Linked DNA regions of Homo sapiens. The protein of the gene in region 2 purifies or fractionates together with the protein of the main gene of each other region. This does not show direct contact. Each region holds a gene or a part of one and is shown on either strand. Other genes may lie near its edges.

Region 1 (3,736 bases), on a different chromosome or scaffold from region 2:
TGGCTCACGCCTGTACTCCTAGCACTTTGGGAGGCCGAGGTGGGTGGATCACCTGAGGTCAGGAGTTCGAGACCAGCCTGGCCAACGTGGTGAAACCCCGTCTCTACTAAAAATATAAAAATTAGCCAGACGTGTTGGTGCATGCCTGTAATCCCAGCTACTCGGGAGGCTGAGGCAGGAGGATTGCCTGAACCTAAGGGGCAGAGGTTGCAGTGAGCCGAGATCGCGCCGTTGCACTCCAGCCTGGGCAACAAGAGGGAAACTCCATGTCAAAAATAAATAAATAAATAAATAAAATAATAACAATAATAATTATACCCACAGCACATATGGAGAGAGCAATAAAGTAAATGTGGCACAATCAATGTTACAAATTGGTGAATCTAGGTAAGGTGTACATGAGAGTTCTTTGTATGATTCTTCCGACTTCTCTACAAGTTTGAAATTATTTAAAAATAAAAACTAAAGAAACTCTAAATATCTATATATCTATACTGTGAGAGGAAAATAAATCTCAGGACCTCAAAATCACTAAGCCAAAGGGAAAAGTCAAGCTGGGAACCATGTAGGACAAATGTGTTTCCCATCCTATTCCTAAATAAGATAGCTACAAAAATTTAAAAAAAAAAAAAAAAAGCCACAAATCTCTCTCATAATTTGCCCACAAGGAAGTTTTTGTGGACAAAGGACAGGCAGAACTCAGTCATCCCTCTGCTCACATGGAACAAATGTATATATGGTTGTTTCCTTTGCTCTGTTGTTTCACTAAGCCAGACTAAAGCATAAGTGACTATTCCTGCAAATTGCATATTCAGTGAAAGGCTAATCAGAAACTCAAAAGAATGCAACCATTTGTCTCTCACCTACCTATGACCTGGAAACCCCCTCCCACTTTGGGTTGTCCTGCCTTTCTGGACTGAAGCAATGTACATCTTACATATATTGATTGATGTCTCATGTCTCCCTAAAATGTATAAAACCAAACTGTGCCCTGAGTACCTTGGGCATATGTTGTTAGGACCTCCTGAGTCTGTGTCACAAGTACATCCTTAACTTGGCAAAATAAACTGTCTAAATTGATTGAGACTTGTCTCAGATACTCTTTGATTTACAATACATATATATCTTAGCTGTATCAAAGATAGATGGAGAGAAACCACAGACATTATGTGCCTCCTGATGAAAGAACTCAGCATCAACTATGAAGCAGTTGACTCCCACCAAAATTTAAAACCCTAAAACAAAATCAAACCGAGCCTGTTCAAGCCTCTACATCCAATTACCGATTTACAAGAAATACAGAAGACAGAGGAACATGGGGATACAGTCAGCAAAACCCAGACCATGGGAATCTCTACGGGACAAAAAATGCAGATTCTTCAATAGCAAAGGGGAAAAGATATGGCGGAAGAACCTATGGATTAAACGAGCCATAAAAGATAACCAACTTGCCACAATATGGATGAAACGAGGACATTATGCCAAGTGAAATGAGTCAGTCACAAAAAGGCAAATACTGTATGACTCCACTTACGTGATGTATCTAGAGTAGTCAAATTCACAAAGACAGAAAGTAGAAAGGTTGTTGCCAGTGGCTGGGGGGAAGGGGATATGGGGAGTTATCGCATACAGAGTTTCAATTTGGGGAAACATAAAAAGTTCTAGAGATGGATGGTGCTGATGGTTGCACAATCATGTGAATGTAGTCAATGCCACTGGAGTGTACATTGAACAATGGCTAAAATAATAAAGTTCATATTAACGTATATTTTACCACAATAAAAATTTTCAAGAGATAACCCATTGCAATGGATGGACCTTATTTGGATCCTGATTCAAACAAATGGTAAATTAAAGGCACACACATGTATTTATGACATTTCTGAAATGATTGGGACACTGTTTAGGTATTTAATGATGAGATCAAAGAATGATTGTTAAAATTCTTACAGGGGTAATAGTTTGGTGTTATGTTTAAAAAACAAAGAGTCCTTACCTTCTAAAGGTATATACTGAAATATTACAAATGAAATAATATGGCATTTGGAATCCGCTTCAAAATAACATGAGAGGAAAAGTAGGTGGGAATTAGAGGAAGCTCAAGTAGCCATGAGTTGACAATTGTGAAGTTGGGTCATGGGTACATGGTGGTTTATCTACTCTTCTCTCTGTTTTTTGTGTATGTTTGAAATTTTCCATAACAAGAAGTTTTCTTAAGGCAAAAAAAAAAAAAAAAAAAAAAAACCTACTTTGTAGAAAGAGATTAATGAATAAAAAGTGACTGAAAAAAAAAAACAAAACCGAAAACGCTGGATTCAATAACTTTAAAAGAGCTTCTCTACTGCAGGATTTCTAAGGGCCTTTAACCATTAAAGTGCACAATGATTCTTCAAGTGGGAGATGCAGTCAGTGCTCAGCCCATTCCCAGACTTATTTACAAGTACATAGACATGATACCTTTATCCAAGGTACAGTCCAGATTTTACTTATCTAGTGCTTTCAGGAAGGCACAGTTCTAGGATCAGTGTTCTCAAACCACTTTGGGAAAGAGCTTCCCTTAGCCATTTCCCAGTTTCTGGAGTGATGCTGCCCAGTAAAGCACTTGGGAAATGTCTAGGCACTATAGAGAAATCTGGGCTACCTATGTGTAGAGTTTTACATTTTCTTCCTTTCTTCATTTTTCCTTTCTGTGTTTTCCAAACTTCCTATAATGAGCACACATTGTTTTATAATCAGAAAAGAAAATTTCAAAAAGCTACCTTAGTGATGGCCACTTAAAGGTTCATTCTACCTTTATATGTGTTGGAAAATTGCCATCATCAAAGTTATCTCAGTAATGTGAGTCACTGAGGTGCTCCTGGGCCCATTTTTATTTTTCAAAATGACTGTAGGAAATCTGTAAGCAAGTAGGGCAGACACAGAATTCTACCTTGGCAGGCCTGTGCTTGAACCTTCTCTCAGTGATTTCACTAGAAGCCCCTGCCAAGTCAAAGGTTTATCTATGCAGGTGGTGACTACCCTCAGTTACCCGTTAATAAGTATGCTCAAAAATTCCTCAGAGGCTGCTCCAGGCATCTAGCAGGCATGCAGGCAGAAACCAGACATCTAAGGAAGACTATTCCATGGGAGTAGTGAGCCTATTGACCTACCACCAACCTGCTATGGAAAGGTAGAAATCCTTGAAGTCCTTGATCTCCCTGGAACCCTCGCAGGCTGCGAGACACTCGTAAAAGGCTTTGAAGAAGTCGGGAAGGGCCAGCTCCATGTCTGTGATGGATGTTCTCCAGTTCTCACCGTTGTATGCCCGCACTGCTCGGATGAACAGGCTCTGAAAGGCATGGAGAAGCCAGTGAAGCTCGCTCTTGGGCGTGAAGGGAGACAGTCATGAAATCTCAAAGGGAACCAAGACCACCACCAAGCTAGCTCTCATTAGCTCTGAAGAAGCCACACTGGCCCTTGAAGAAGTCAATCAGTGAGTTACTTTATATCTAGATTTTTCTACTTTGCTTATGATGGGTACATTTCTTATTTAGTTCAATTCAAAAAGTAGCAGGCCCTTGATAATAATCTGAATTAAGGAAAATGGGAAAACTATGACAGAGATCAGATCAGTGGCTGCCAGAAGTCAGGGGTTACAGCAAAAACTTGACTACAAAAGGACAAGAGGAAATTGTTCAGGGGTGATGAAAATATTCTATGTCGTAACTATGATGGCAGTTACAGGACTGGATGTATT
Region 2 (2,850 bases):
ATATATTCCCGTATTTTGGGTAAACTTTCTATTTAAGATAACATTGAATTACACAGTATTACATATGCAGCAGGTATGGTGTGTGTCATAGAACATTATGAATTCCAGGCAAGTTTGAGAAAAAAAACTAAAGGAGTCAACCCTCCCTTTACAGATGAGGAAACTCGGACTCAGTCCCCAATGATATGGACTACACACAGTTAACACAACTGTGTAGCAACTTCTAACTTGTGGCCTTCATGTTCCAAATCTAGTGACCCTTTCACACCTCAGGAAACTGAAACACTGCTAACACACAATGGGAGGAGGGAGTGTGTGGGGCACAAGGAGAGGGCAACATCAGTGACCCAGGCCATCAGGCCCTTGCTATTATGCTAAGCTGTCTCTTACCTAAAGGCCCTCGGCCACTCACAGTGACGAACCATGCAAGATTTCTACTAGCACAGTAGGATCAGCAGCCACACATACAGGACTACTATCCCAAAACAATCACAGAGTCATTCTCTTTCAAATATTTTTTATTGAAATGACAATAAAATAAAAAAAGAACAGTGATCACTTTAACCAAACTTACTTTACAAATATAAAAATATAACCAAAACTTGTTTCTTTTATACATTTGCCATAAACGTAATACCAGAAAAGTTCTCAAAACCAAACTATAAATGATGCTTGAATACTATGATGTGAACACAATAACCAAAAGTTTAAATTTCTAAATACATGACCTTTCCCTCAACAGAACAGCATAATCAATATATCTTCCCAACTTATCTCTATTTTTACGATATGATCCATTACTAAGATACAAAATACACCTGAACTGGCCTAATCTAGAGTTACCTAGGTTTTAGTAAGTTTTTTTCCACAAAAACAAGCTTAATAACTATAATACAAGCTAATATTAAAATGTGTTTTATGGCTCAAATCAAATTACAGTATTAGGTTTCTCATCACGATTTGAACAAAAGCAAACTGCTTGAAATGAGTCCAGTTTAACCCAAATAATCAGTGATGTATAACAAGTGAAGTAAGTATGGGAAAATCAAATCTTATGCTACAGAAAGCTGACTTATACTACAGTCAACAACCACTAAGCCTTCTTTGGCAATGAAACATACAAAATTGCAAACTCTGATGCAGTCTCAGTGATTGGCATATACTGTTCCAAACACTATGAACTAGTAAAAACATTAAGTTTGAGGATGGAAAAGCTACCCCAAGCATTTCATCTCAAGTGACTGAACAAGTACTGTAAAAATAAAGTCATTAAAAAGCCGAGAACATAAGAGCACAACATTTAAGAAAGGGAATTTTAAGCCGATTGCTTGCTGGCCTGTTGAATTTGAAGTACTTCTACCTCTCACTTCTAATTAAACATGGAAGAAAACAGACTGGCTAATTTGGTCACACTTTGTCCAAATACAGTGTTAACTTAATGGAACCCTTAAATATCCAAAATAATAAGTGAATGCTATTTATAAGACAATAAAAAGTTTTAAAATCTTCCAAATGTGCTGTTAACAGTACAAATTCAAGTGCAGAATTATTACGCCATTTTAAGTATTATCTACTTTTTTAAAAAATCACAGTGGTCTTCATCACATGGCGAAAAAACAAACTTCACTCTTCTCCAAAGGGATAAGTCCATCCTAAATGTAACTACAAACAATTGTATAAACCTTTATAGTTTTTCCCCCTAATCTACTAAACATATTCCAGTGTCATTTAGTAGTTTTACATAGAATCTGCACTATACTTGGATACTCAGGGAAAATAAGATGACATATATTGTAGTTTTAGAACGCAAAAGAGCTTTCATTTTAGACAAATATACAACATAGAAGCCACTAAAAAATATGGGTCTATTAATCAAGAGCCCATTTCAAAATGATAAGAGCATTTAGTATGTAGATCTGGAATGCACAGTTTCTGGAAGTATTAGAACTTAGTGTTAAACAGTGCCCTTATACCCTCTTCTAATACTGTAGACACCTACCAACCAGATTTGATTTCCCCTAATTCTATTATTTCCATCAGAAAACCAAAAACAGATTATTGGGGATCCACCTGTAACTGACCAGAGCAAAAAGTTTTTAAGACTTCCGTTTGTGTGTTGCAACTTTTACATTCAAAACCAGATCTCTTACATTTCAAGGTTAGTAACCCAGCCATCCTGAATCAAAGGTTTTTCTCAACTAGGCCTTAGTGTATGGATGACTGGCTCACGTACTTACTGTATATTGGGAAGAAGTGAAGAAGTGAGAAGTGAAGAATTTCTTGGTCAAAGTTTAAGTTACAAAGAACATGAGTGGCCTCGAATCAGATGACTCTTCAACTCAAACACTCCTTACTGAGAGTACTTTATAAAACACACAACAAAAGTCTACCTCTCTCCACCCTCCACAAATTGCAAAAGTGAACATCTGAAATGTGGCCACTGTAGCTTTTCCCTCAAAAGCAATCATGGAAGGTGAGCTGAATCAATCCATCTTCATATCCACTTCCTCCAATCTAAAGGAATAGCTGAAGGACGCAGCTAATGGATGAGCTTACCAGCAAAATACATTACATGAGAAATATGCTAATGTAGGCTAGAGGGGTAGGACTGTTAGGGGCAGGAGGGAAAAGGACAATTCACAGAACTAGTGGCTTTTTCAAAGGAAACTGGGGCATTTTTGATCATGGAGACTGGTGCTCACCTACCATGAAGGACATGCACAGTTAGTCACTACTTAACCACCATGTGAGGGTTTGACATGACCCCAACTAAAAAAACTTGAGTGTTTATTAATTGCTCAGCTACACTTGGCCTGATTTCCTCAAGTATCATATACCTTTGACATCACC

Evidence for each region.
Region 1: the proteins of NUDT21 (region 2) and CRTAP purify together in Homo sapiens (affinity purification with mass spectrometry; one large-scale study listed by BioGRID and IntAct). This does not show direct contact.

The regions. Positions count from the first base shown.
Region 1 is NC_000003.12:33,124,000-33,127,735, reverse strand, and holds part of CRTAP (cartilage-associated protein isoform 1 precursor), read right to left. Parts: intron 3,329-3,736; coding exon 3,157-3,328; intron 1-3,156. UniProt on the Homo sapiens protein: Necessary for efficient 3-hydroxylation of fibrillar collagen prolyl residues.
Region 2 is NC_000016.10:56,428,633-56,431,482, forward strand, and holds the end of NUDT21 (cleavage and polyadenylation specificity factor subunit 5), read right to left. Parts: 3' UTR 501-2,850; downstream 1-500. UniProt on the Homo sapiens protein: Component of the cleavage factor Im (CFIm) complex that functions as an activator of the pre-mRNA 3'-end cleavage and polyadenylation processing required for the maturation of pre-mRNA into functional mRNAs.